Linked DNA regions of Homo sapiens. The protein of the gene in region 2 interacts with the protein of the main gene of each other region in a biochemical or structural test. Each region holds a gene or a part of one and is shown on either strand. Other genes may lie near its edges. The genes, in order: GOLPH3, GALNT2 and GOLPH3L.

Region 1 (10,363 bases), on a different chromosome or scaffold from region 2:
CTCGGGAGGCTGAGGCAGGAGAATGGCGTGAACCTGGGAGGCGGAGCCTGCAGTGAGCCGAGATCGCGCCACTGCACTCCAGCCTGGGTGACAGAGCGAGACTCCGTCTCAAAAAAAAAAAAAAAAAAAAAAAAAAATTGGGTGGCATCAAAAAGATAAGGTGAGGCTGGGCCCGGTGGTTCACATCTGTAATCCCAGCACTTTGGGAGGACGAGGAGGGAGGATCACTTGAGCCCAGGAATTTGAGACCAACTTGGGCAACACAGCAAAACCCCATCTCTACAAAAAATACAAAAAGTAGCCAGGTATAGTGGCGCACGCCTGTAGTCCCGGCTACTTGGAAGGCTGAGGTGGGAGGATCACCTGAGCCCAGCAAGTTTGAGGCTGCAGTGAGCAGAGATCACACCACTGGACTCCACCCTGGGTGACAGAGCATACCTTGTCTCAAAAAAAAAAAACCAAAGCTGAGGAAAAAAAAAAAAAAAACCAAAGCTGAGAATATGGAAAGGTGGAGAGAACTGCTGACCACAAGGGCTGGAAGAGGTCAAGGCCTTTTGAGTTTTCTGATTTGGAGCATCAAGGCGTAATGAAACTTAATATTTATTGTGCACCAACTATCAGGCACTTTACATGTGCTATTTTATTTAATTGTGACTGGAGTCATTTTGGAGGCTTGGAGGCTACTGATACGTCTGGAGGCTAAGCAGTATCTGGAAAAGAGGAATCATGGAACCAATCCCAAGGATTCTTTAAGGAAGACTCTGGGCTTGACCTAAAAATCAGAAGTCGGGCCAGGCACGGTGGCTCACGCCTGTAATCCCAGCACTTTGGGAGGCAGAGGCGGGCGGACCACGAGGTCAGGAGATCAAAACCATCCTGGCTAACACGGTGAGACCCCGCCTCTACTAAAAATACAAAAAATTAGCAGGGCATGGTGACGGGCGCCTGTAGTCCTAGCTACTCGGGAGGCTGAGGCAGGAGAATGGCGTGAACCCGGGAGGCAGAGCTTGCAGTGAGCCGAGATCGCACAACTGCACTCCAGCCTGGGCGACAGAGCGAGACTCCGTCTCAAAAAAGAAAAATAAATAAATAAAAAATAAAAAAATAAAAATCAGAAGTCAAGTGGTACTTCAAGTTTCCAAATTTCCCAAACCAGTTTTGCCAGGAATTACAAAAAGGAAACTGACCAGAGGTTCAGAACAAAGGTAGAGATAAATACACCTACTATGTGCCCATAAAAATTAAAATTTTTAAGGCCAGGCGTGGTGGCTCACGCCTGTAATCCCAGCACTTTGGGAGGCCAAGGTGGGCGGATCACGAGGTCAGGAGATAGAGACCATCCTGGCTAACACGATGAAACCCCGTCTCAACTAAAAATACAAAAATTTAGCCAGGCGTGGTGGCAGGCGCCTGTAGTCCCAGCTACTCAGGAGGCTGAGGCAGGAGAATGGCATGAACCCGGGAGGCGGAGCTTGCGGTGAGCAGAGATTGGGCCACTGCACTCCAGCCTAGGCAACAGAGCAAGACTCCGTCTCAAAAAAAAAAAAAATTAAAATTTTTAAAAAAATACACGCATAGATGAGCATCTGAATTTGAGTAAAACGTTCAGTAAGCCCAGCATATAAAGTGCAAGAGAATCAAGAAATAGTAAAAATAATGGAAATATTAAATACTTGTCACTTGTCAAGACCACTATAAACTTTAACTTACTTCTCTAGGCTAGGTAATTACCCATTTGCATTTGTTCAGCACCATGTGGTTTTCAAAGCACTCACATATGCCAACACATTGGATCCCTACAACTTAGAGGCTTTCGGACAGAACACAAAAGTAGGCCCATGGCCGGGCGCGGTGGCTCACGCCTGTAATCCCAGCACTTTGGGAGGCAGAGGCGGGCGGATCACGAGGTCAGGAGATCAAGATTATACTGGCTAACACAGTGAAACCCCGTCTCTACCAAAAATACAAAAAATTAGCCGGGTGTGGTGGCAGGCGCCTGTAGTCCCAGCTACTCGGGAGGCTGAGGCAGGAGAATGGCGTGAACCCGGGAGGCAGAGCTTGCAGTGAGCCAAGATTGCACCACTGCACTCCAGCCTGGGTGACAGAGCGAGACTCCGTCTCAAAAATAAAAAATAAAAAAGTAGGCCCATTTTGCCCAGGAGAAAACTAAGGTTCTAAAATTCAAAATATTTATTCTAATTCTTTCAACTACTCAAGGGCAAGGCTAGGTGTCAAGAACACAGCAGTCTTGCAGGTCCTGATCCAAAGCATCCTCCCTATGTACATCCTTACTGCACCTAACACATACTCCCATAAAAGTTAGTAACTCAGAAGAGGCAGGCAGGATAAAGTTAATAATTCACTTTATTGAAATCATTCGCAAATCTGTCTTCTATGCAGACTGAATGCTCCTTAAAAGCAAAAAATTTTTCTTTGTGGCCGGGGGCACAGCGGCTCACATCTGTGATCCCAGCACTTTGGGAGGCCAGGAGTTCAAGACCAGCTTGGCCAACATGGTGAAACCCCGTCTTTACTAAAAGTACAAAAATTAGCTGGGCATGGTGGCATGTGCCTGTAATCCCAGCTACTTGGGAGGCTGAGACACAAGGATTGCTTGAACCCAGGAGGAGGAGGTTGCATGAGCCAAGATCATGCCACTGCACTCCAGTCTGGCGACAGAGCATGACTTGGTCTCAAAAATATATACATATATATATATATTTTTTTTCTTTGTAACCCCAGCATCTGGCAAAGGGAATGAATGGCACAGAGAAGCTGTTCAATACTTGGATTAAACGGAACATATAAATACTAAATAACCTCTAATTTCACTTTAGCTACACAACATGGTATAGACAAAAATTAAATGGTATACTCCATTCAGTGACTGAACTGAAATTTAAGTTCTTAAGTGTTATTTCTGAGGTTATTTTGTTAATACGGTATAAACTGTTTAGCATTTCCATTTAAGAAACTGGAACTAGAAAATGAAACCAGAGTAAAAATAACCATTAGCAACTTTTACATACAGTTTCTTAATTTCTAATCTGTCCCAGAAGGTAGTGGTGGAATACAAAGTTTGCCTATATATTATCAATAAAAATAACTTTTACCTTAAAACTTTAACTCATAAGTTCCTACACGCAGTTCAGTATGCTAAAATTGTTCCTCTTCCTACTGAACTACAAGCCAAATTCTATTGCAATAAAAATTCCTATCAGAGAAAAAGATTTCTAAACCTCAACTAAGCACAAGCTTATAATTTTCCATAGTGACTTATTTCAATGTTTCTCACCCTTTATTTCATCACTGTTCCCTTAAGAAGTACTTCCAGATTTTTTCCTCATTATCTTCTCCCCCATGAAATTTTAATATGATGGAATATACATATTTGTTTGTACACTGTAAGTGTGCCTTTTTATACATAAGAGGAGTAAGATTCTTTTTTTTTTTTTGAGACGGAGTCTCACTCTGTTGCCCAGGCTGGAGTGCAGTGGCGCGATATGGGCTCACTGCAAGCTCCGCCTCCCGGGTTCACGCCATTCTCCTGCCTCAGCCTCCCGAGTAGCTGGGACTACAGGAGCCCGCCAGCACGCCAAGCTAATTTCTTTGTATTTTTTTAGTACAGACAGGCTTTCACCATGTTAGCCAGGATGGTCTCCATCTCCTGACCTCGTGATCCACCCGCCTCAACTCCCAAAGTGTTGGGATTACAGGGGTGAGCTACCGCGCCCGGCCAAGAGTACGATTCTTTCACTACCACGCCCAGAACCAAGTTTCACTCCCTTGGCAATGACATTACCACACTGGGAATACATAATTTACTTAATAAAGCCAGTAATCTACTTAATTAATACAGTAAATGTATTAAGTAAATTTATTTAATAAGTAAATTTACTTTAATAAATAATATTAGCTTACTTAATAAGGTAAATTATGTATTCTTTTTTTTTTTTTTTTTTTGAGATAGTCTTGCTCTGTTGCCCAGGCTGGAGTGCAGTGGCATGATCTTAGCTCACTGTAACCTCCACCTCCTGGGTTCATGTGATTCTCCTGCCTCAGCCTCCCGAGTAGCTGGGATTTCAGGTGCATACCACCCTGCCTGGCTAATTTTTGTATTTTTAGTAGAGATGGAGTTTCACCATGTTGGCCAGGCTGGTCGCTAACTCCCTGCCTCAGGTAATCCCCTTGCCTCAGCCTCCCAAAGTGCTGGGATTATAGGCATGAGCCACCACACCTGCCAGGGTTAGGTAAATTATGTATTCTTAATGTGAGTAATGTCATTGTACTGAGTGACTGCCAAATGCCAGCCTGAAATATATGACATCAAAAAATTATAGAACAGGCCAGGCAGGGTGGCTCATGTCTGTAATCCCAGCACTTTGGGAGGCCAACGTGGGTGGATCACATGAGGTCATGAGTTTGAGACCAGCCTGGCCAACATGGCGAAACCTTGTCTCTACTAAAAATACAAAAAGTACCCCTGTGTGGTGGTGAGTGCCTGTAATCCCAGCTACTCAGAAGGTTGAGGCAGGAGAATCGCTTGAACCCAGGAGGCAGAGGTTGAAGTGAGCATAGATTGCACCACTGCACTCCAGCCTGGGTAACAGAGCAAGACTCTGTCTCAGAAGAGAAAAAAAAAAAATTCTAGAACAGCAACATAATTTAGTTTTGTAGTTTACTATATGAGCTTTGACACACAGAACTAAAATGAATGAACTTGAAGACAGACATGTTCTTCAGTGAATTTGTACTTAGTAAAGGGCCTCTCACAGAGCATGTGCTCAGTAAACATTTGATGAATGGATGAAAACTGTTAGAATCCTAGATGTGTGGTAATCCTAGATTAGAAGCAGTTATGCTGCTTCTAAATGTCATTTAGCAAGATGAGAACCTCTAGACAGGCCACAGAAATGTGGACTTCGTATCTCAAATCACTTAAAATTCAACTCGCTACAACCCTGGAAACCTGGAATTTTCTGTAGTTAATTTTCAGGAAGGAAAAAGAAAAGACGAAAACCTTAAGCTAAAACAAACAGTTCCTGTTTGGTAATTTTTAACCTTCCTGATTCACTAAATGCTTTGAGTATCTAATGAAAGTTCTGTCCTCTTTCCCCAAGAAAACACACAACTGCAGAGAATTCACAAAGTTTCTCAGCTCTGTTCACTCCAATTTAAGAACTTCTCCATTAAAGGAATATGTAAATCAAATACAATGCATTAAGTTTAAAAATAAGTAAATTTTTTTGTTGTTGTTTAAAATGTTATTCTTAAAAGTGACCAGAAACATCCTTGTTGGCAATACACTGTACTTTAATATTAGTTGTGTTTTTGCAGATGAGAGGTTTACCAAACGGGAAGAGAAATAGCCTATGTTCTAAATATATTTGTAATACCTAAGTCAAAAACCTCAAAATGTACTAGATTACATTGTAATACTGTACAATGCTATTAAAACAGGTTGCAGTCTTCCCAGCTTTGATAAGAGAAACCTGAAGCCAAAAACATCAATTTCAAAATGAAGCCAGGTTTCCACTTTTGGCACTTGTCAGGACACTTACTAAAAAGCAGCAGCATGGCCGGGCACAGTGGCTCATGCCCAGACCTTTGGGAAGGCGAGGTGGGCGGATCACTTGAGGTCAAGAGTTCGAGACCAGCCTGGCCAACATGGTGAAACCCCATCTCTACTAAAAATACAAAAATTAGCTGGGCATGGTGGCAGGCGCCTGTAATCCTAGCTACTTGGGAGGCTGAGGCAGGAGAATCACTTGAACCCAGGAGGCGGAGTTGCAGTGGGCCAAGACGGTGCCATTGCACTTCAGCCCGAGTGATAAAAGCAAGACTCCATCTTAAAAAAAAAAAAAAAGCAGGAGGAGGACAAGCACTGTCTTTTTGTGCTGCTTCAAAGGGAGACTCACAACATGAAGATAAATCCTCTAAACAAAGACTACAGCATAGTTTTATACTATTTAATCTGATTAATGGCAGTAGAAAAGTTATGCTGTTAGAAGGGGGGGGGAGTTTGCAAAGACATAAAAAAGTGTACAGCCAAAAGCTTAACATTATGTACCAGAACAAGCATAATGCCTGATGCCTCCAGGGTATTTAAGATTTACATGTAAGATGATATTATAAAAGTGTATTTCTTTAAATATCAAAAAAATCCCCCAAATATTTCAAAATCTATCAAAATAACTTCAAAATACAATTCTTTTGTTTTGTTTTGTCTTTTGAGATGGAGTTCCACTCTTGTCGCCCAGGCTGGAGTGCAGTGGCGCAATCTTGGCTCACTGCAACCTCCGCCTCTCAGGTTCAAGTGATTCTCCTGCCTCAGCCTCCCGAGTAGCTGGGATTACAGGTGCTCGCCACCATGTCTGGCTAATTTTTATATTTTTAATAGAGACAGGGGTTCACCATGTTGGCCAGGCTTGTCTTGAACTCCTGACCTCAGGTGATCCATCCACCTCGGCTTCCCAAAGTACTGGGATTACAGGTGTGAGCCACCGCACCCAGCCTTCAAAATACAATTCTAAAACGTAATTCAAATGCTCCATACAAGAACTCTCAGGTAGTCCAAAATTAACAAATATCAAATATTAGTATAACTTATGAGATGAGTTAGTGAATATTTTGACCATATTGTAAAAGAATCCCAAAGCACTAAAAAGTAATTTCAACAGTATAAAATCTTGTTGAAAAGGTATAATAAGCAGACCAGGCGTGGTGGCTCACACCTGTAATCCCAGAACTTTGGGAGGCCAAGGCGGGAAGATTGCTTGAGGCCAGGAGTTCGAGACTAGGCAACATAGTGAGACCACGTCTCTACAAAAAAAAATTTTTTTTTTTAATTAGCTGGGCATGATAGGGTGCGCCTATAGTCCCAGCTATTCAGGAGACTGAGGAGGGAGGATTGCTTGAGTTCAGGAGGTCGAGGTTGCAATGAGCCATGATCACACCACCACACTCCAGTCTGGAAGACAAAGCTAGGCCCTGTCTCAAAAGAAAAAAAGTACAATCAAATAGTTTAATGAACTTCAAAAGTAATTTCTGAGATCCTGTATATCTCATACCTGTGTTTAAACACCTGAAAAAAATAGATAAAAATTCAAAACTTCAAAAAATATGAAGGAAATATCATTTGTCTTAGAAACAACGAAAATTCATTAAAAACTCAGAAGCCTTTATTATATTTTAAATTACTAAAACTCAGCACATCTGGAAATTCTGAATACTTGTTGACTGAATTTCTGATTTACAGATTTGATATGTAGAGATGGTGGACATCACCACACGTATAGAAAGGAAAACAATTTTTGTTAAGTTATACATCTTCATCACTATTATACTTCAAAGTAGTGACCTTGGGAACCTTATTCCAAAAATGGAAAACATCTTTGGAGCCTGTGTAAAAGCCACACAAAAGTCAGTTCTATCATTTTGGTTAATCTTAAGTATTTTACCCCATTACATATTATTTACCTCAAGTACCTACTTATTTTTCAAGACATAGAGTTAAGTTACTGTATTACAGTTCTTGTCTACAAGCATTAGAAACATTAGTAACTGACTCTGGCTATCTTTAAAAAGCAACTTTACTGGAAGGCTGTTGAAACTCACAACACTGAAAGATGACTGGAAAATCAGACTGGAAAAAAACAGTGCCAACAGACCAGAGAAAGCAGCTCAAAGAACCATGCCAAAGAACAGTCTGATCCACACGCTGACATGACTCTGGAAAGGTCTCCAAAAAACCCTACAGCTCGTTATTCTCTCAAGATCCAAAGCCCTGAAAGAAAACATATGATTGGACAAGTCTGGCTGCATGACAAAACAGCAGGGGAATAATATGCTTCAAGAGTGCATCCTAGAGCCGGTCGCAGTAATCCCAACACTTTGGGAGGCTGAGGCGGGAGGATCACTTGAGGCCAGGAGTTCGAGGCTGCAGTGAGCTATGATCTCGCCACTGTACTCTAGCCTGGCGACACAGCACAATCTGTCTTAAAACAAAAACCAAAAAACACAACAACAAAAAAAAAAACAGGTGCGGTGGCTCATGCCTCTAATACCTGCACTTTGGGAGACTGAAGCGGGAGGATCACTTGATCCCAGGAGTTCAAGACCAGCCTGAGCCATGTGGTGAAATCCCTGTCTTTATAAAAAAAAAATTTTTTTTTAATTAGCTGGGCATGGTGGTGTGTGCCTGTGGTCCTAGCTCCTCGGGAAGCTGAGGCAGGAGGATCACTTTAGCCCAAGAGGTTGAGGCTGCAGTGAGCCAAGATCGCACCACTGCACTCCAGCCTGGGTGACAAAGAAAGACCCTGTCTCAAAAACAGGCAACACACTATGGGGAAACCCTAAAGTAATACAAAATAAAGCGAAGACCTGGGGAGGAGTTAATAAACATCCACAGCAGTACAATCAGAACCATCATATGGAATGACTACTTTTCCATTATACATGAAAACACTGAAGCTCAGAAGGCTTAAATTATATGTAAAAGCCAAAGAATACACTTTGGACAGGACTATAGAGCCTCTCTCTGCTTCTGCTGTTCCATAGGCATACTCCAAATTATACTTGGCCACTGAAAATAATTAAATCTAACCTTAAAAGACTAAGATTTGCCACCAATGAAGACATTCAAACATATATGACACCAGTTATTTGTGGTAATTCTCAATAAAGCATCCTGAAAATATTCTATGGAAAGCATCTATAGAATAAACACACACAGGGAAAGGAAAATACCTGGCACTTTTGCTGTCCCTCCCCCTCAAACACTGGGTCAATTAAAGAAATACTGCTAATTACTTGGCAGTTGAATTTAGGTGTAAACTATCTGCCATCCTTACTGTGGTCTTTAAAGAGTTACTTAAATACTTATGCACTGATTCTCTGCCCAAGTGAGCATGAAAATCTTCTGAGGGGACTAGCCATCCCTGTTTTATAAAAGCAAAAAACAAATATCATTGGTTAAAAAAAAAAAATCTGAAATGTGTAAAGAAAAAAAAAAAAATCAATCACAATGACTTTAGACTCACTCCTAACAGGTAATCTGAAGCCAGACCATCTGCTTATTCAAAAACTGAACCTTCTGTTCAGCAAAAAAGAGAGGGAGACTTGACTCAGAATATGTCAAAGTAATTTTTTAAATATTATAGATTATAAACATGTTAAAAATAAATTGGTAAGACAATAAGAACAAAGGACAATCTCACACGATATGGATGAATCTCACATTGAACAAAAAGCAGACACAAAGTACAAAAAACTAGGCAAAATTAATCTATGCTGAATTCTAATATTAAGCCAGTGGTTACCCCTGAGGAATGGGTAGTGACTGGAAAGATACTCAAGTGGAGGGCTAGGGCTTCTGTTTCTTGCTCTAGGTACTGGTTTAACAAGTATATTCACATAAGGTTATTAGCTCACATATATAAAATATTTCCAACATTAATGATTTGCTTAAATGTAAAGTTTAGCTTTTAAAGTTCTTAGGAGAATCCAGACATTAAAAAGATAAATGCTGAAGTAAAAATCAGTTAAAGCAATGAGTTAGCATAAACGCCTGGGCTCAGGGTAAGACAGCAATTCCTGCCTCCTAAAAAGAGTACTATAGGTTAAAAACATGGTGGCGAGCCTCCCAAGGGAAAAACATACCAACAGATAAGTTGACAGGGCTGGTTATTAGAGTGTAAAGACATGATGAGTTGGCTTGATGGCATGCACCTTGTATTCCCAGCTACTCAGGGCGGATCACTTGAGCCCAGGAGTTTGAGTGCAGCCTGGGCAACATCTTGAGACCTCCATCTCTTAAAAAAAAAAATTTTAAAGATGTGATGAAAGGAAAAAATATATAGGCTAATCCCTAAAACCAAAACCTAAAGCAATACAAAATCCCAGTAGTCTCAACCCCACCCCTCAACTCTCTGGACTTGCCTAAAAAAAAAGAGAAAAAATTTCCCCATGTGGTTGCTGAAATCAGGAAGAAATGCTCACAATAAGCTAGCAAGCATCTGGACCTTAGCCATGACTAGCAAAGTATAATGAGTGACTCTTGATGCAAAATAAACAGAACACATGGTTTCAATTACCCGCCAAATAACTTTAAATTGTTTAAATTATGTGAGTATGGTTAAACTTCAACAAATTATTTAGATTATCTTCTTAAGACCCAATCACCGAAAAACAGCATGTTAATATGCTTCACCTTAAACATTTAGAGCAAGGGTGTCCAACCTTTTGGCTTCCCTGGGCCACACTGGAAGAACTGTCTTGGGCCATATATAAAATACACTAACACTAGCAATAGCTGATGAGCTTTAAAAAAAAAAAATTGCAAAAAAAATTTCATAATGTTTTA
Region 2 (10,363 bases):
TGCCAGAGACCAAATAATTATTTTTATGATGTCACACTGTCCTAGAGTATGGGTGACGTGAGTGCCTGTGGGTGCTTGGAAGAGCTGGCTGGAACTCACCCATGTTGAATGACAGCATCATAGAATGTTGGGATTCGACTCAGGGTCGGGTGGCCTTCCCCAGAGAAGGTGGCCGGCAGGGCTGGGTGGGTCAGGGCTGCCTCCATGCCGTGTTTGGAATGCTACAGTGCACAGGCCAAGCAGGTGCTTCTACTCTAGGACTCTTCAGAGCCTTTAATAGACTGAATTTCCGAGAGATAAACACAGCACAAAGTCTGTTTCCCAAATTCATTTGACCTAGAATCCGTCTTTCCTAGGATTCCTCACAGAGTAGAATGTGAGGAACACTAATTAAAAGGTGAGAAAATGGAAGACCCGGGAAGTGAGCAGGCTTGCCCAAGCCTCCCTCCCTGTTAGGGGAGGAGGAAGTCTTCAGACAGGTGAAGGTGTCTTCACTGATTCCTAGACGGGTGTCCGTGCCTCTGCATCCCCTCTGCTGATGCTGAGAGCTGGAGATGGTGCATCCCGCCAGTGGTTGTATAAGGTCTGAATGCTAGAATCTTTAGGGTTTGGTTTGGTTTGGTTTGGTTCGGTTCGGTTCAGTTCGGTTTGGAGACAGGGTCTCGGTCTGTCACCCAGGCTAGAATGCAGTGGCACAATCACAGTTCACTGCAGCCTCGGCCTCCCAGGTTGAAGCAATCCTTCCACCTCAGCCTCCCAAGTAGCTGGGACCACAGGCATGCACTGCCACACCCGGTCAACTTATTTTTTATTTTTAGTACAAACAAGGTCTCGCTATGTTGCCTAGGCTGATCTTGAACTCCTGGCATTAAGCAGTTCTCCCGCCTTGGCCCCCAAAGTGCTGGGATTATAGATAGGCCTGAGCCACCACACCGGGCTGCATCTTCACCTTTTAATGTTTTTCTAATGACGGACTATTTGTTCCAACATGATACAGATACTAGACAGTGAGGCTTCTTTAAACACTATTTGTTCCTTTCCTTACCTCTGTTTCCAAGAACCAAGAAAAAAACAGTGTCTTCATAGCACATAATAGTGCCTGAAGTTGCAGAATACATTTATTTGTGTGTCTTTCATGTTCCCCACTAGAAAGGGAGCCTGGCTCTGTGACAGCGCCGGTGTCATACAGGTGTGCAGCAGGTGGTCATGGGACAGACCGATAGAAAGACAGACAGACAGACGGAGGGGAGGGCCACTGCAGCGTGCTGGGGCTTAGAGAGGAAGGGGATGGAAGTGGATAGTGAGTCCCTGTGGGGTTTTAAACTGGAAAGGGCCTTGCTGCCCCTCGATATTAAGGGGTGTTCATCCCTTTGAGTGGGACAAATGGAGAGTGATGGTCAGAAGCCTCACCTTCCAGTCCCTGCTGTGGCCCTGCCTGGAACAGGCTCCGGCCTCCTCTGCCACCTGGGACCATGTCTCATTTAGTATCCAAAATGGTTGTCCTCTCACCCTGTCACAGCCTTTAACTTGTGTGTGTTTGTACATATATGTGTGTGTTTGTTTGTTAACATCATGGTGTGTTATTTAAACACTCTCTAGCTCAGTTTTCTCATCTATAAAATGAGAATAATAATAGCCCTCATGGAGCTGTTGTATAAAGGGCTTAAAATAATGCTTGGCACATAGCACCCCATTAAATTTAGCTGTAATGTATTCAAAGAAATTCATAGATCTATTCCTCCAGTTTTCAGAGGGCTTCATGAGCACCCATAGATCAATTAGCATTCACTTAGGAGGCTATACACGATATATTTTGCTTACATATGCAATGTGTTATTTACTACAGTTCACATTCATCAATGCTGTTTGCAGGCCATACCTGCATGAGGGCAGAGTCATTCCAAAATAGCATGGGTGGACCAGTTGCCAACTGTCTACCTGGTGTATAACCAAGCTTGTGCCACAGTTTTTACAGCTCACATTGAATTATAGAAAAATGAACAAGGCAGTCTAACTTGTATTTGGGGCTAAAATAGTTAATAGTTTTATTTTAGTTACTGAGGTCCTCAAAGCACTTCTGCACATCACTCAGCCAACTTACTGCTCAGTTGTGAGGTTCTCCCACATCTCTGATGTTATAAATTTGCCCTTAGGCAAAAAGTAATTGTTTCGTTCTCAGTTGGCTCAGGGGTTCTGAATCTAAGCTCCACCCCGTGACCCATTTCCTTTTTGAGCCCTCATCGATGCCCCTTCTTTCCTTTCACAGCCCGGTGCATAGCACGCCTCTGACTTCTGGTTTTGTGTTCCAGGAATGGGCCTTGACGAAGGAGAAGTCGGTGAAGCACATGGATTTGTGCCTTACTGTGGTGGACCGGGCACCGGGCTCTCTTATAAAGCTGCAGGGCTGCCGAGAAAATGACAGCAGACAGGTACGGCTTGCAGGCACCCGTGGGTGCCCGTGATTAACCCAGACCAGGGTAGCCACGGCCTGCGCCCTCTTGCTCTGTGCTGCCTCTCAAAGCATCCATCTCTGCGTGTACTTATGTGTTCTTTTGCATCACTGTGAATAATGTCTAGCTGCCCTATTAGACTTAAGCCACAAACCTAATGTTGCTTATTTCTGATTATATTCTCATTCTCTTCCCTATGCCGCTGAAAATTTAAAGAGAAATTATCTACTTTTGTTTATTCATCAAATACTTTTTTCTATTTCAATTTACAAAAATTCTAAATGATTAATGTTCACATGGATGGTACTCGATACATAATGCAAGTGTGTGTGTCTATGTGTGTATATATGTGAGCATATATATACACACATATATACACACCACATATATATACATGCTACATATATACATATATACATGCCACATATATACATATATACACGCCACATATATACACATATATACATGCCACATATATACGTATATATATACACACCACATATATATACATGTATACACACCACATATATATACATATATATACACACCACATATACATATATACACACCACATATACATATACCTGCCACATATATACATATATAAACACCACATATATATACATATGCATGCCACATATATGCATATGTAAACACCGCATATATACATATATACACACCACATGTATACGTATATATAGATGCCACATTTATACATATATAAACGCCACATATATATACACACCACATATGTATACATATATATACATGCCACATATACATCTATAAACACCACATGTATACACGCCACATATATACATATGTAAACACCACATATATACACACCACATATATATACACGCCACATATATACATATATACAAACACCACATATATATACATATACACACACACACCACAGATACATACATATATATACATGCCACATAGATATACATATATAAACGCCACATATATATACATATAAACACACCATATATATACATATAGATACATGCTACATTTATATAAACACCACATATATATACGCCACATAGATATACAAGCACAACATATATACATGCCACATGTATACATATGTAAACACCACATATATATACACACCACATATACACACCACATATATATATACAAACACCACATATATATACATATATACATACACCACAGATATATACATATATATACATGCCACATATATATACAAATATACATGCCACATATATACATGTATATACATGCCACATAGATATACATATATAAATGCCACAGATATATACATATATAAACACCACATATATACATAGACACCACAGATACATACATATATACATGCCACATATATATACGTATATATACATGCCACATATATATACGTATATATACATGCCACATATATATACGTATATATACATGCCACATATATATACGTATATACATGCCACATATATATACGTATATATACATGCCACATATATATACATATATAAACACATATATACATATATAGACACCACAGATATATACATATATATACACACCACATATATATACATATATACACACACACACATATACACACAGTTTCTTTAAACATTTCAGAATAGACTTTCTACCTGCCTTGTAAGCCGGTTTTCTCTGACGTATTCCCTTGTGGCAGCTTGTGGACACACCCTTTCTCAAGGCATGGGGTAACAGTTAGTGTCAGGAATAGAAATGCAAGCACAAAAGGTCCTCCCTGTATGCCCATACTTGGAGTGCCTGCCCCTGTTCTTACAGTCGGTCCTTAGAGATAGATGGGATGTAGGGAAACTGAGGCACAGAACCTACTGGAGCCAAGAGCCTAAGCCAGCTTCTAGTCTAACCCTGATTTCACAACAGAAAAGTCTCAGAAAGTCATTGCCTCCACCCTGGAGTCATCTGGGAAGACCAAGGCCAGGACCGAGTCCCCGGTTCTGACCCCAGTTGTCAGGGAGACGCCTGCAGAGGGCCCTCTTTCACCTGTCTGTCTCCAAACCCCTGCGCCAGCTCTGGGTGCTCCTCCTTCCCTGCTCTGCAGAGTCCCAGCCTGTCCTGGCAGTGGGAGCCCCTCTCTAGGGTTCTGCTCACAATCCGCATCTCTAAATGTCCATCTGTGTTGATGACTTGATACCAAAATGTGTAAGGGAGTGCCTGTTAAACAAGAGAAGGCTAGCACCGCTTGGACCCAAACCACCTAGAAATTGCCTCACTCATTGGCCCCTCGAGAGGAAGCTCCTCGAGGGCAAGGCTGGCATCTGCTGAGCCAAGTACTGGGTGAGTCTCAAACACATTCCCCTGGGATGTAACGGAGCAGAGATGTCTTTGGATGTAATGGATTGATAAAGTGATGACTTTAGTTGACACCTTTTTAAAAAACAAATATTACTTCAATATTGCTTAATTTCAAGAATTGACAGGTGTTTCTGCTTCAGTCCCAGTTTTGGGGAACCATAACTGACACGGCTTAGGACCTTTGTGAAGCATGAAAAGACCTATAAATAATAAGTTTTTCTGGATGTATGGCATGTATAAATGGGGATCTGTTAGGTTTTAAACCCCAAGACTCAGGCTATTAGAGAGGATGTGGGGGCTGTTTCAGTAGAGTCTGACTGCCTTGAAAATCTGCGCTCCCCACCCCCAACCACAATCCCATCAGACAGACAGATCAGAGCCCACAAGGCCACCTGTGCGAGACGGAGCTGGGGTTTTGTTGTTGTTTTTCTAAGGTTCTTGATTTAGCTGATGCTTTGACACATGACAGGCAGTCCCTCCAGTGGCCAGAATCAGATTCCGTTCATTCCGAATTCTTTGTTGAGAAGATTCCTGGCTGCTCAGAGTAACAGGGCAGCCTCAATACATACACACTTTACATGACAATGGGGAAAAACAGCATGAGGGGTGATTGACAGCAACGAGGGAGCTGGAAATGAAAGAGGCAATGACAGGCACTTAGCAAAAGCCTCCCCGGCTCCTCTGATTGCACTGTCTTTCCCTGCTGGCAAGAACTCCAGGTGAGCAGGTGGACGGAAATAAGGAAAGCAGGGTACAAGTGACAACATCCTTGTGGTGTTTCGCGCAGGTCGGGTCCCCAGCACTGGGCTCCTCTGCCTGCACCGGCTCCTCCCTGCCTCACTCACTGGCCCCTCAAGAGGAAGCTCCTTAGCAAATTTTATCTTGGAACTGAACTGGCTTTGCCAGTTGGAACATTTGGTTTCCAGGCACGTCCATGTTTTCATATGTTGTGCATATTTGCAGAGTCAAAGGGGAAAGGGAGGCAGGAGTGAGAAAATTTAATTCTGCAATGTCAAAAGGATTTGCAAAAAATACTTAGGTGAAGGAGCTTTCGTGCACACAGTATAAAAAATTAATTAGAACCACAGACTTCATTATTTGAAACGAGCTTTGGGGAAGAAAAAAATGTTACTTTTTTTTTTTAAGAACAAACATTAGAGATTTTTAAAGGGGGATTTTTCTGTTTTTCTTTCTTTTTTTTTTTTTTTTTAAGAGACAGGATCTCACTCTGTTGCTTAAGACTGGAGTGCAGGGGTGGGTATGACCATAGCTCACTGCAGCCTCGAACTCCTGTGCCCAAGCGATCCTCCCACCTCAGCCTGCAAGGAGCTAGGACAACAGGCATGCACCACCATGCCCTGCTAATTTTTTTTAAAAAAAATGTTTGTAGAGATGGGTTCTTGCTATGTTGCCCAGGCTGGTCTTGAACTCCTGGCCTCAAGCGATCTTCCTGCCTCGGCCTCCCAAAGTGCTGGGATTAGTGTCGTGAGCCGCCTGCACTCAGGCTGAAAGGGGTATTTATGTTACTTGCTAAACAGGGCTCCTCAGATTTCCTTCAGGCTGGGTTGTGCACTTTGATTCTGGCTTAGTTGGTGGGTAACGGGTATGTGGGTTGAGTTTGGTTGTTCGCTTGATTTGAGTGTTAGTAAAGAGGCATCGTACCCTGTACTTTACAAGCGGCATGTTCAGAACTCAGCAAACATTGGTCCCTGCCATACAGAGCACCAGGGGGCTCAAGGGTAGCAGAGACAAGTTTCTCATATCCACCAAGGAGCTTGCACACCAGTAGAGAACAGACTACATAGAAATAGGCTTCTCAATGCTATGTTCTGTTCAAACAACCATCTCTCTTCCTGACATTTGGCCTGACACCGTTCCTCTGGCTCCCCCGAGCAGAAAGCCCTAAGTGGGAGCATGGAGGTGCCCAGACCAAGGCCTCCAGGCAGGGCTGCTTTCCAACAGCCAGGGGAGGATCTGGCCCTGCATTGTGTGGATCCCTTCTTGGGGTGAACCATCACTGGATCAAGCTTTCATACGAAGGCATGCAAATTCCCCTACATCAAATCCTGTGTTAATGACGAAGGGGTGGGTGCCCAGAGCTCTGGGGCTCAGAGGAGGGGACACCCACAGAAAGTTTGGGGCAGGAGACGTTCTGAGTTTTGATCCAAGGCAGAGAATATGTTTCCTTCCTGGGTCCCAGCAGCACCTGTGGCTGGTTTCCTGTGGGGCTGCTGCAAGCTCCTCGGCCGTTCAGATGAGAGGCTGGGAAAAACGTGTCTATCTGTGAGTTTTTAATGCAGCCACAAGGTCCTGAATTCACACGAATCTGTTTGTACTCCTTTGCTTGTGCCCACACTCTAAGGCACTCTCCTGTGTCTTGCAGAAATGGGAACAGATCGAGGGCAACTCCAAGCTGAGGCACGTGGGCAGCAACCTGTGCCTGGACAGTCGCACGGCCAAGAGCGGGGGCCTAAGCGTGGAGGTGTGTGGCCCGGCCCTTTCGCAGCAGTGGAAGTTCACGCTCAACCTGCAGCAGTAGGAGGGTCCGGGAGGCCCTGCCGTCCTGTCTCCTGCACCATTGGGTGGAGTCTGGTGATCACATTATTGATTATGTTTCTTAAACTTTCCGCGAAACTAATATACCTCAGTATTCCATCATGGTCTGAAAGTCAAACTTCGGCAAGGCACGGACGACTGTGCAGACACAGCAGCGGCAAGAAGCGAGAACTGCCCTCCCCCTCCTCTCGGTGCAGCCCAGCCGGGCCCCCTTCCCCAGGCCGGAGCGCCCCTCTTCCTTCCAGCTTTCACTTCTGCCGGCTCCGCAACTGAGTGACACCCAGCGACAACCGACTGGGGAGTGGTAGAAGCAACTGAACGGATGCGTGCGAGCTGAGGACAGGGCGGGAGGAGGGGGCACACATGCCCCAGGGGAGCGAGGAGAACTCTTGAAATCTCCATTTTCAATCCCTTCGAAATCACGTATGGTTTCCACAAAGCCGAGTCGTGTCACGTGGCAGGTTTACGTCAATAGTCCCTCTCTCTGCTCCTCCATTCGCAAGTGTCTTCCTGGGCCAGACTCCCCTCCACCTCATGTACTTGCTATATTGAGGATGAAGTTTTCTATGGTGGGACACTAAATATAAAGCTATATAGAGAAAGAATGTACGGTCAGTTCCCTATGGTTTCTGTAGATCATCGTCATCTTGTATATTCCCCACAAAGCCGTTCGCAGCTTCCGGGAGAAGGGGCCAGAGCCCGGTGGGGCCAGTTTCTCACAGAGGGAGGAGGTGGCCTTTGTCCCCTGGAGCCCGATCAGCCAGTTGGTGCTACTGCTGTGGCCAGCTGGGGGGCTTCCTCCAGACCACCGGCCTCGGCCCCGGCATCCCTGTTGGGCGTCAGCCTGAGAGTCCCTACTGTGCGTCAGAATCCACCTTGCGTGCTGTGCGTATCTGTGAACCTGGAGCGGTTACTTATTTTGACAGATATCACTTTGGGTCTTTTTACATTAAATTTCTTTTCTCTAAGGAATATAAGACATACCCCATAGCTCTGTGTGAGCCAGCAATACCGCTGCCCCCTGGCGACAGGGCAGACCAATGATGCCAGGCAGCTGTCACACGCTAGTATTGGCTTCATTGTGATCTGAGCCCTGCACGCTGGGCCTTCAGAATTAATGGCCAGCAGTGTCAGGGATGAGCCCGTCAGCCAGGGCACAGGCCTGGCTCACAGTCCTGCACACCTGCTGGCCTGGGGAGCTCCAGCCAGGCAGCGAGTCCTGCCCCGCCCGCAGCTCCCTCCCACACCCCGCCTGGCCAAGATGACTGCTTCAGGGGGCTTTGGGGAAAGAATTAGGAAGGGTCAGAACCAAACAATACCTGCTCATTTACACTGAGGATTCAGGGCGGGAGACAGGAGCCTTGGGGTCCTGTTAAACCACAGACAGTTATGAACTGAAAGTCATAACGGGGAGAGGTGCCTGGCTTCTACCTGGGTGCTCAGGAATGTTCCTCGTCACCCCTGCCACTCTGTGGTCGGTGCCCTGCTTCCTCCTCCACTCCTGGCCGCCTTCTCCAGCGCCGCACACACAGATGCTCAGTCTCAGAGAGGCTGGCACGGCCTGGCAGTCTGAGAAAAGCGTCAGTTAGGCACACCTGCAGGCCCCTCGGTGGGACAGCGGCGGCCTTGGAGTTAGGAGCCACCCTGGGAGGTTGTGCCGGTGCCATGCTCCTCCCTGTGTCTTGTATGAAAGGGGCCACTGTGTGTCTTCCTCCCCGGCGGGAGCCCCACATGTGTGCACTGTAGGACAGCGGCCCCGAGGTGGAAGCCTGGCTGGAGGGCTGCCCTATAGGTCTTCTCTTCCCGCCTCCCCTGCCATGCAACCAGATGTGTTGTGAGTGGGCAGCGTGCCCCCACGCTGGAGTAACTCCGCACGCTTCTGTCTTTCACGGTGGGCGCTCGGGGGGAGCCTGAGGAAAACCCCCTTAGGTACCTGTGCGAGGCTGTGGAGTGCAGGCCAGAGCAGGGTGTGCGTAGCCCCCAGCACCCAGGTTCTTCTGTCAGACCCTGTGACCTGCGAGCTGCTACTACTGTAAGGAGGGAAATGGATGAATCTGGCTCGTTTTAAAATCACGTTTTCTGACGAATCCTTTGCCCCTTCACCTTTACCCCGCCCGCACCCCTAGGCCCTCTCAGCCTTCCTATCATCCCACGTGTCTACCCAGACCCTTGTGCGGCCCATGCCCTGGGGGCGGCGTCCTGTCCCTGAGCTGGGAGGCGGCTTTGGATGGTCCGGGCGTCAAGAGCAGGGGTGGGCCGGGGAGGGGTCCTTTGCGGTGAGCTATGTTTACATGACACAGTGTGCCAAAGTGACTTACTGCGGTTGCGTTAGTTTTTAATCATCAGGACTATCTCACCCTCCCACTCCTGTTTTTAAAACTCAGAATTCTTTCCTAAGAGCCCTTCGAGCAAAGCGTGCCGAAGTTAGTTGTCTTCTCTGTGCTGGTCCTTTCTTATGTCCTCATAAAAGCTCAGATGATGGTATCTGTGAGTATGTTTTGCAAATTCAAAATATAGTTTGGTAATTTTTTTTTCCAGTTGATTTTTAAAAAGAACTGCTGTACAGAGCTTGTACTTTGTCCATTTTATAGATGGAAACCATCCTTGAAAATTGTTTAACTTAAATAAAGAGAAGATACTTTCTAGATACCGCTCTTTGCTGGCCAGAGTCTGTCCTGGTGTGTGAGGGCTGGGTGGGGTGGGTGTGGGGACTGGGATTGGGGTCAGCCTTCTGCAGCTCCTGCTCAGTGGCTGTTTCTTATCACCTTTTGCAGATGCGCTTTTATTGCTGTGCCCTTTGGTTGGTTATTCTTACTTGTAATAATAATCATTATCATTTGTGGAGTGTTTATGATGTGCCAGGCACCCAGCCAAGCCCTTAAATACATTTGCATTTTACAGCCACAGGGGAAGCTGGTGAAGGAAGTTGCTAGCCTGCTCAAGGTCACGTCCTTCCTGTGTACCTGCCTGGAGCCAGCCCTTGGCACTCGCACCCAGACCCTGTGCTCCAAACCAGGGGACAA
Region 3 (10,271 bases), about 80 Mb from region 2:
TATTTTTTCTTGTAAATTTGTTTAAGTTTCTTATAGATTCTGGATATTAGACCTTTGTCAGATGGATAGATTGCAGAAATTTTCTCCCATTCTGTAGGTTCTCTGTTCACTCTGAAAAATATGGAATGCTTCATGAATTTGCATGTCATCCTTGTGCAAGGGACATGCTAATCTTCTCTATATCGTTCTAATTTTAGCATATGTGCTGCTGAAGTGAGCACCATGCTCAGTCTTATAAATTGAGTATCTTGTTAATAAGACATTACAAAATAATCTTTTGTATATATCTTGTATAAAATGAATCTCATATTCTTAAGGGAAAAAAATCACTGCTTTATTTTAGCTTTTGGTATGAATTATACTAAATCAAAATTCATATTTGATTTTAGACCTTTAAGTTACTCTCAAAGGTTCATTGGGGTGAAGAAAAAGCATTCTGTAAAATATATAAAATATCTAAAGTTTAGGAAATAAATAGCTCACTCTGTTAGTGGTGTGCTAGAACATTTATTCCCAACTCCCCACTCAGAGATATCATGTTGGTAGCTTAAATTGGACATGTTGGTAGTATTCACAGCACAGAAATCAGCAAATGCCTCAAGGTTTGTTTCTCTCCTAGAGCTGGTTATTAAACATTTATTGGAACACTACTCATTATAGTGCCATTTTTAAGTGTCTTCCCCCACCCCTATTCTCAATGGGAAGTTAGAACTGGCAGAAGGCAGCATTCAAATGAGTATCTCATGAAAGCAAGAGATAAAGGAATGTCAAGATTTACTACTTCTAGAAGCAAAATGTTCATCCTAGCCAGTTTATATGTAGGATGAATAACCTTTACTAGGATATAGGGATAGAGACCAGCATTTTAAAAATTATTAAGCAAGATCTCCTTGTAATGTAACATTAAGATGATTTAGGGACATAAATTTATTTCTGAAATTGCACATGTTTTTGGATATGAACTCTGAGCAAGTGTACTCCTGATTTTGAGAATTATTACTGAATTGTGGTTAGAAAAGGGCAAGAAATGAAAATATTCATTATTATATATACTAAGGAAGTTATCATTGGAAAGCTCATTTCAAGCATCAGAAAAGAAGTATATCCTTTTAGAGAATAGTTGTATGACACCTAATCATTAGTCATTTTCCAATATTCATTTTAATAACTATATATACAGCATTATTCACAATAGCCGAAAGATGGGAAAAACCTAAATATACATCAACAGATGAATGGATTAAAAAATGTGGTATATTCATACAATTGAATATCAGCCATAAAAAAAATGAAGTGCCAATACATGCTACAACTTAGATGAACCTTGAAAACATGCTAATTAAAGGAAGTTACTCACAAAAGTCCACATATTGTATTATTCCTTTCATTTGAAAGTCAGAACTGGGAAAGTTATTGAGACAGTCTTAAGGCTGGTGGGAGGATGGCAGAATAAGAGAGTGATAGCTAAGGTATATGGGGTTTGTTTGTGGGGTGATGAAAGTGATGTAAAATTGATTGTAGTGATGGTTGTACAACTCTGTGAAGGTACTGAAAATCATTGAATTGTACACTTATAAATGGGTGAATCATATAGTATCTAAATTATATCTCAATAAAGCTGTTTTTTAAAAAAATTGTATATCCAGCTGGGCACTGTAGCTCATTCCTGTAATCCCAGCACTTTGGCAGGCTGAGGCAGGAGGATCCCTTGAGGCCAGAAGTTTCAGGCTGCAGTGAGCCATGATGGTGCCACTGCATTCCAGCCTGGGTGACAGAGGGAGACCCTGTCCCTAAAAAGTAAATAAATAAATAAATATTGCATATCGTTGCATAAGATTGAAAAATCAAGTGTTGGCTGTTCTTTGAGAAATAACCAATTAGTAATTATTCTATCTTTGTGGAGGCAAATGGAAATCAACCAGTAAAATCTTCCAAAGAAAATCGGAAGAGAAGTCAACATGAATCTGGGAGAATAGTAAGTCTTATGATAATGTATAGTTTGAATACAATGGGAAGGATCAGAATATCATTACTACAGATTAAATTTAAAATGATGAATTTGATATCTTTCGATGTACCTGAGAGTTCTGATATTCAAATTTTGTTTAAATATATTTTGTTCTAAAAATCGAGGTGATTTTGAAATAAGATGCCCTATGTTGGTTTATTAGTTTTTTCCATGTAAACATCTCCTGTCTCATTCCATGAATGATTTAAAGTAATTGGAGGAATTTATAATATATAAATTAAAAATCAGCTGGGTGCAGTGGCTCATGCCTGTAATCCCAGCACTTTGGGAGACTGAGGCAGGTGGATCACGAGGTCAAGAGATCGAGACCCTCCTGGCCAACATGGTGAAACCCTGTCTCTACCAAAAATACAAAAAAAAAAAAAAATAGCTGGGCGTGGTGGCGCACGCCTGTAGTCCCAGCTACTCGGGAGGGTGAGGCAGGAGAATCGCTTGAACCTGGGAGGTGGAGGTTGCAGTGAGCCAAGATCGCGCCACTGTACTACAGCCTGGCGACAGACCAAGACTCCGTCTTTAAAAAAAAAAAAAATCAGTGCCAGGAAAAATATAAGAGAATATAGAATGAGAAAGTGACAGTACAAGAATACTAAGGCCATTTTGTTTATATAGAACTGAAATTGGGCCACAAATTTGATCTGAGCTTTCTAGAGATCAAAACTGAAGTAGAAGGAGGATAATTTACTAAATACATGTGTTCCCTAAAAATATAGGGTCTCCTCCTAGTACCTCTGGAGAAAAAAATATTTTCCTGACTTAAACCCTATAGTTGTTTCATATTTAGAACCTTATTTTACCAAATCAGATAATGTATTTGCCATTTCTGAGATAATTATTCATATTTTTCCAACTAGATATTTTAGTATTATTAGTAGGTTAGAATTAAACAACTGAAAACCTAAGACTATTTTTAAAACTCAAATGTTAACGTCTCAAGAGTACAAAAGCAAGACATGATTTAAATCGTACATGATTCCAAGGTAGAATGTTTTTCTATTTGTAGTTCATTTTAAAATCTTTTTTCCCTTCTTATTGCTCTGAAATATTTGGCTATTTTGAGGACATAATGTTAAATCTATCTTCTCACTTCTAGAGCAGCCCTACTGAAGATTATACATTTTGCAAGTACATACTTTCAGCAGCCATTGGAAGATGTTAATAATAAATTTTACTCTACTTTTAAGAAACCCAGATATAGTTATGCTAGGTATGCTAGGCATAAATTTTTTTAAAAAGAAGAGAAATCTCAGATACATGAAAAAATCTACAATTAAAGACATTTAAACAGGAAAGTATCTATTCTTAGTAGTTGTTTTCTTTTGACAGGTCCTCCATCACTTTGATTCTTCTAGTCAAGAGTCAGTGCCAAAAAGGAGAAAGTTTAGTGAACCAAAGGAACATATATAAAAATTATTTTTGTTCTGCAGGCTTGCAGAGTTCTTCTCACCATTTAAACTGAAGGACCCTATATTATATTTCCCTAACTCTGAAGATGTATATGTAGTTTAAAGCAGTTTGTACACTAAAACTAAGTTTTTGGCTGACTGTCATATTGTGGTCCTTAATCTTGAGATAAATCCAATAGAACTTTTGAATAAAAGCAAAAGTACAAATGTCATAATTGATTCGGTAATAAGTAAAATTTCAAAATTGATTTTGTTCATTACCTACTTAATATTTCCTTTAAATATATACTAACTGTTAAGGCCCTCTAATGCCATTTTTCTAAACAGTAATGTTTACTTTGGTATTAAAATTTGGTATGGATTCACTTTTTACTTATGTTAAAATTATACCATTTAACTGGCTCTTTTGTCATTGTGCTGTTATTAAAACAATGTTCTTCAATATTTTGACATAATGTATTAACATTTTAATATATAATGTACAATTTAAGAATTGGTGCTTTACCTTTACTATGCTTTTTTTTACAGGACAAAAAGACTGATTTTTAAAGTATGGCATTTTTTGCAGCATAAATAAAATATTGTTCAGTACGTAGGCCCTTTTATCGCTTCTAATTTTTATTTAAGTAGCAGGAAATATGGCTTCATTCATTTGAAAGGCTGGTAGGAGGATGGGGGGATAGGGAATACTAATTTTTAGATGATTTCGGTAGCTATTACTTTGCAAGAAGAGTTGAGCACACTTTCTAGAATTTTTGAGTGGTAGTATGAAAAATGCTGTGCTTTTAATGAGAAACCTGGGAGCTAGTTCCAGCCTTGCCTGCTTTCTTTGCTTTAGAAAAAGGAAGACTTAAAACTTGGTCTGTTTGCCGCTTGTAGTTTCAGCAGCCATATTCCAAAAACATACACATCCATGGGTTTGTCAGTAATAAGCGCTATAGGGAATGCTGGTACATATGCGATGGTAGAAATGTATTCATCCTGTTTAAGGTAAACCATATAAACGTACACAAACTGACCCAGATCATGTTTTTCTGGAACAGTCAAGTCAAGGATAAACTGACTGTCAGAAACAACCAATGTAAAAATATTTATTTATTTTTAGCTGTATTGCTTGGATCCCAACACATCTCACTTAATTGTCCCAGTATACGCTACTACAGCAACACACCTGCTACGCTGAAATTAACCCACAGAAACCTTTCGAGATTGGCAGCCCATGTTAGCTCACTCAGCGCTTTGATTGGCTGGTTTAATGGGGGTGGGGAGCGCAGCCCTCTTTCCTCTCTTCCACCAAGGTTCCTTCATTGGATTGACCAGCTGTCAGGTTGAACGCAAACCTGCCTCCTTTTGGTGGTGTTTGTCTGGATCGCAACAGAATAGCTGGGGGAGAGCCTCCCCCTGTGAGCTCCGATTGGCGGGACTCAACCTTGGTGATTTCTGATTGGCGCAATGAAGAAACACCAAGGTAGGTTGCCTAGTGATCCTGAGGAAGCTGATGTGTTATTCCTTCTCTGCATCGAAGGATCAGGAAGTTTGTGCTCTCTGCGTGGCTAAGTTTTTCACCTACTAGGACGGGGGTGGGGTGGGGAGAACAGGTGTCCTTCTAAAATACAGCACAAGCTACAGCCTGCGTCCAGCCATAACCCAGGAGTAACATCAGGTAAGCAACGAGAAAATTACATTTCCTAACGTCCCTTCCCCCCACCAAAAAAAACCTCTATTTTTTAAAATTATTATTTTATGGGAGGGAAAGGTTTGTATTCATTTGGGCCATTTGTTTTCTTTCAAGTAGGATTTTTAACTAGTAAATGTGCAGATGAAACTAATTTCTCAAAGAAACCGCCCCCTCTCCCCCTCCCCCCCTGCCCCGCGAAGGTTTAAAGTTTCTTGGATTGGTTTAGGAAATAGTCCCTATTCACAGTGCCAGATAGGCTTAGTGCGCTTAAGAATTTATTTCATGGTTCTCTTCCTCCTTCACTTTTCTTCCCACCTCCCATAACAAATTATATTTGAAATATACCCTTGTACAAAAAAACTTTTGTAGCTCACTTCATTTGTATTTCTATTTTAAATGTTCACATGCACTTCTGAGTATTCATTTTAATCAATATAAATTTATCGAGCAATAACAATGTTAAAGACAGTGCTAGTTGCTATGGAGAATATATAAACCCAAGAAGACAATATCCCTGTTCTTAAGAAGTTTACAGTTGAGAGACAGCTATACCAAGAGAAAGACTATAATAAATACTTTAAAGGAAGTGAGTATAAATAAAGCTCTGTGAAACAGCTGAGGGAGTGGCCATGAGACACATAGGTAATAGAAAAGAGGAGGTCACTTAAAGGCCTTCACAAGGCCTTTAAAGAATGGGTAGAATGTAAAGAGGAAGAGAAAAGGGTGAAGACCCCAGCAAGTACAGAGGAGCAGAAGCAGAAAGAAAGCATGAGACATTTTTGAGAAAAAGTCTGGCAACACTACTTATTAGGAGCAATGGGAAATATTGCTAGAGGAGTAGAAACGAGTCCAGTCATAGCAACTCTTAAATACCATTATTTTGATCTTGAAAAAGATACTCCTTTATATAATTGCTGATTTAAAATATTTGTTATATATTATCTTAAAAACTGATATCTAGATTTATATAAAATAAAGTATGCTAACTATAAACTTTATCACAAATGATTTAGTGCAGTTTCTTTTGACCGTAGTACATAGAATAAAAGACATGTTCTTTGACTTTTTTTTTTAAATTGAGAAAATTTGTTAATCTTTCAACACTCTCTTGCCAGTAATTTTTGTTTGCAGCTCCTTGTGTATTTGCAAGATATGGCTAGCTAGGACTAGAGCTGCTAAGTTTACTGACTGTGGAATTACTACACATGATTTTCTGAATGTTATCGTCTAGACTTGTGATCTCCAAAGTGAGTACATGAAATGAGTCATTAGGGTATGGGAAGGAAATATAGAACATGTATTTCTATTTAGTTTTTCGTATTCTTTTTTACTTTCTATTTTTTGTGTTTTTTTATAATGTAGTACCATGGAACGTTTATAGAAATTAGATACAAATTATTATATGCATTTTGGGGCTGGATGCTCACAATTTTTTGTTGTTCCATCTTACTTAACTTGGGATCCATTTTGTGAAAGAGGAGTGACAATGGTGGATATTCACTCCTTCTTTATAGATTATGCAGAAAAAATCAGCAGGTTTGGCCGGGCCTGGTGGCTCATGCCTGTAATCCTAGCACTTTGGGAGGCCCAGGCAGGCAGATCACTTGAGGTCAGGAGTTCAAGACCAGCCTGGCCAACATGGTGAAACCCCATCTCTACTAAAAATACAAAAATTAGCCAGACATGGTGGCGCACACCTGTAATCCCAACTACTCAGGAGGCTGAGGCACAAGAATCACTTGAACCTGGGAAGCGGAGGTTGCAGTGAGCCAACATCGCACCACTGCACTCCCAGCCTGGGCAACAGAGCAAGACTCCCTCTCAAGAAAAGAAGAAGAAAAAGAAAAAAAGAAGTCAACAGGCTTGAAAGATGAGCATTTCTACTGGACTTTAGAATTACTCATTTGATCTTTTGTCAGTGCCATCTGTGAAGTCCAAGCTATTGTACTTTGGAAAAGATACTGTATTACCCACCCATTTTTTTCTGGTCATTACTCCTTCCTTTCTTTCTATATTTAAATCTGTAAATATTTCCTATTTGTATGGATGTTTAGTATGCATGTATGAATATATGATTTATTTACATAAGCATACATATGGATTTTTTTTTTCACCACTCCCTCCAGAAACAGGTGAGAATGACCACTTTAACTCACCGGGCCCGTCGCACTGAAATAAGCAAGAACTCTGAAAAGAAGATGGAAAGTGAGGAAGACAGTAATTGGGAGAAAAGTCCAGACAATGAAGATTCTGGAGACTCTAAGGATATCCGCCTTACTCTTATGGAAGAAGTATTGCTTCTGGGACTAAAAGATAAAGAGGTAATGCAGTTAGGTTTGCTAGGCTATCTCAAAGACTATTAAATATTGGAATGTTTTAGGAAGTAACCTAATGGAATATATTTAATAATAAATTGGTCTTAGAATTGTGCTCTAACCATCTGGAAGATGGAGGAGTTGGGACAGTGACCGATACTTGGAGGGTAAAAATCCAGAAGTAGAATTACGTGAAGTGTATTTAATTACAAAATTACTCCAAAATTTTAGAAGATACAGGAGAGGAGGATATAGTATAAAGTTTTGTACTTGTAGTTTCCCAAGTTAGATTAAAGGCGAAATAATACCGTTTATTAAAGTAAGAACAAGGGCCCACACACTGAAGTCTTCTTCAGCTTTGAGGAGAAATAGTCTTTTACATGAAAAGACAAGGAACATGTGTGATTAGTTGCCTTACAGAAATAAACAATTGGTAGGTTTCTTATAGCAGAAATAATTTTTTATTTTCCTCTGTGCATCTTTATAAGGCAAATATCAACAGTTGGATTACGCGGTGGCTCACGCCTGTAATCCCAGCACTTTGGGGAGCCGAGGTGAGTGAATCACTTGAGGCCAGGAGTTCAAGACTAGCCTGGCCAACATGGTGAAACCCCGTCTCTACTAAAAATAAAAAATTAGCCATGTGTGGCGGCGGGTGCCTGTAATCCCAGGTACTCGGGAGGCTGAGGCAGGAGAATCACTTGAACCTGGGAGGCGGAGGTTGCAATGAGCCAAGATTGCACCACTGCACTCCAGCCTGGATGACAGAGTGAGACCCTGCCTCAAAAAAAAAAAAAAAAAAAAAAAAAAAAAATATATATATATATATATATATATATATACACACACACACACACACACACATACATAAACAATTGAGGATTATTTTAATTTTTGAAAATTTTTAAAAATAATTTTAGCTTTTCTCTTTTTTCCCTAAATGTCTCCTTATTTAATGGAACATTTATTTTATAGTACAGTTAGTCTTAAGGTCCTGAGTCTTGTGATATAACCAGAAATTTCCCTGGCTTCTCTACTAGTATACATCATCATCCTTCATTTGTAACTTTTTGCTGTGTTTTCTCATCACACTATTCCCTCATGAAGAAGTTACGAAGGTAACATTTTAAACAATCTGCTTTCTTTCCAGGAAAGCCTTAAATAACCGCCCCCCCTCGCCCACCGCCTGCAAGAAAAGAAAGAGGTATATTTATTACTGGCCTCAGTTTTGAAAACATACAAAATTAGAATGTTATTTTAGATTTTAAAAGTACTAAATTTGGCTTTGATAATTATCCTTAGCTAGAAGTGAATTGGCTGCATACAAGTAGTAACAGCTCTTCTTTTCTACATAATTCTTCGACTTGGAAATACCATTGTTGTTTAGATTTTGCCTTTCATTTATTTACTATTTTCCTTTTTACTTTTTTTCTTGTTAAATTACCAACTTGAACAAAATTTACAGACCAGTTATAGTCTGTGTATTGTTAAAACTAATATTAGAGACATGCTTATGTGTACCTGGCCAAGATGTAGGTATATCAGAAATTCTTGCCCGGAAATATATTTTCCTGTTTGCTGAGAAGTTGATGAGCCTTCAGTTTTATAAAAGGCAAATAAACGAAAAGGCAAAACCAGCTCTCCAAGAGAATGTCAGAATAGGACTGAAGATTAGGTGATATAAATACTCTTTTGAGACGTTTACACATTACCTAGGAAACAGTCACTGACTGTATAAAAAGAGGATATAGAACTAAAAGCTATTTGGTTTGTTTTAGCTTTGAATAGGAATGATTAATTTCCTGCTGACCTTATGCACTGGAATTTTTGCTTTTGGGCTTGTCTTCATGTGTTTATAATGGTTAATATAAATTTTAGGAAATAGAATAAAAAATAAAGCAGCTCATTAAGAGCTATGGCCATGGTGAGTACTTAACATATTGGTGAGATACTGTACAAAATAAGCAGATGGCTGGATGCAATGGCTAATTCCTGTAATCCTAACACTTGGGAGGCCAAGGTAAGAGGATTGCTTGGGCCCAGGAGTTCAAGACCAGCCTGGGCAACATGGTGAGACACCATCTCTACAAAAAATTTAAAACAAAAAAATTAGCTGGACATGGTGGCACATGCCTGTAGTCCTAGCTACTCAGGAGGCTGAGTCAAGAGGATGGCTTAAGCCTCGGAGGTCGAGGCTTCAGTGAACCAGGATTGTGTCACTGCACTCCAGCCTGAACAACAGAGCAAGGCCTCAAAAAATAATAAATAATAGCACATAACAATTAACCACCTTTTGAATTGCTCTAATTTTATTTTTGAGGATAGTTAACAAATATTTAGCTTTCATTTGGCTCAGGAAGAATAAAAGACAATAAATCCTTAGGTGTAAATGAATAGAAGAGGTCAAACTTTGTGATTTATTTAAATAGTAGTAGTTACAAAAGGCCAGTTACATAACTATCTCTAAAAATATTAAATTGATTCCCAACTGTACTTATTTTTTTCTTATCTCTCAAACTATCAATAGATTCATTTAATCAATATTTAATGTGATTGAGGACACCCATTATGTGCTTAGGATTATGCTAAATATTAATACTAAGGTAAATATAAAATAGTATAGTATATGGTCCCTGCCTTCAAGAAACTTGCATTCTAGCTGGAGAGACAAAAAGATACATACTTTTTAAAAGTTAAGTAACCCGAAGGTCCATCAACAGCAGAATGGATAAAAATGAATCATCAAAAAAAAAAAAGAGTCATCCATTTGTTTAAATGAGTATAAATATGTTTTCTATACAGAATGAAAATGAACATTGTTATACAACATGTATATTTCTCACATT

The links.
Region 1: the proteins of GALNT2 (region 2) and GOLPH3 form a complex in vitro, tested with the Homo sapiens proteins (one study listed by BioGRID).
Region 3: the proteins of GALNT2 (region 2) and GOLPH3L form a complex in vitro, tested with the Homo sapiens proteins (one study listed by BioGRID).

Annotation. Positions count from the first base shown.
Region 1 is NC_000005.10:32,160,957-32,171,319, forward strand, and holds part of GOLPH3 (Golgi phosphoprotein 3), read right to left. Parts: intron 1-10,363. UniProt on the Homo sapiens protein: Phosphatidylinositol-4-phosphate-binding protein that links Golgi membranes to the cytoskeleton and may participate in the tensile force required for vesicle budding from the Golgi.
Region 2 is NC_000001.11:230,272,136-230,282,498, forward strand, and holds the end of GALNT2 (polypeptide N-acetylgalactosaminyltransferase 2 precursor), read left to right. Parts: intron 1-2,309; coding exon 2,310-2,429; intron 2,430-7,167; coding exon 7,168-7,323; 3' UTR 7,324-9,987; downstream 9,988-10,363. UniProt on the Homo sapiens protein: Catalyzes the initial reaction in O-linked oligosaccharide biosynthesis, the transfer of an N-acetyl-D-galactosamine residue to a serine or threonine residue on the protein receptor.
Region 3 is NC_000001.11:150,691,816-150,702,086, reverse strand, and holds the start of GOLPH3L (Golgi phosphoprotein 3-like), read left to right. Parts: upstream 1-4,932; 5' UTR 4,933-5,095; exon of another isoform or gene 5,096-6,327; coding exon of another isoform or gene 6,328-6,357; intron 6,358-7,236; coding exon of another isoform or gene 7,237-7,248; coding exon 7,249-7,431; intron 7,432-10,271. Other genes in the region: HORMAD1 (HORMA domain-containing protein 1), read left to right, coding at 1,904-1,975, 3,353-3,433. UniProt on the Homo sapiens protein: Phosphatidylinositol-4-phosphate-binding protein that may antagonize the action of GOLPH3 which is required for the process of vesicle budding at the Golgi and anterograde transport to the plasma membrane.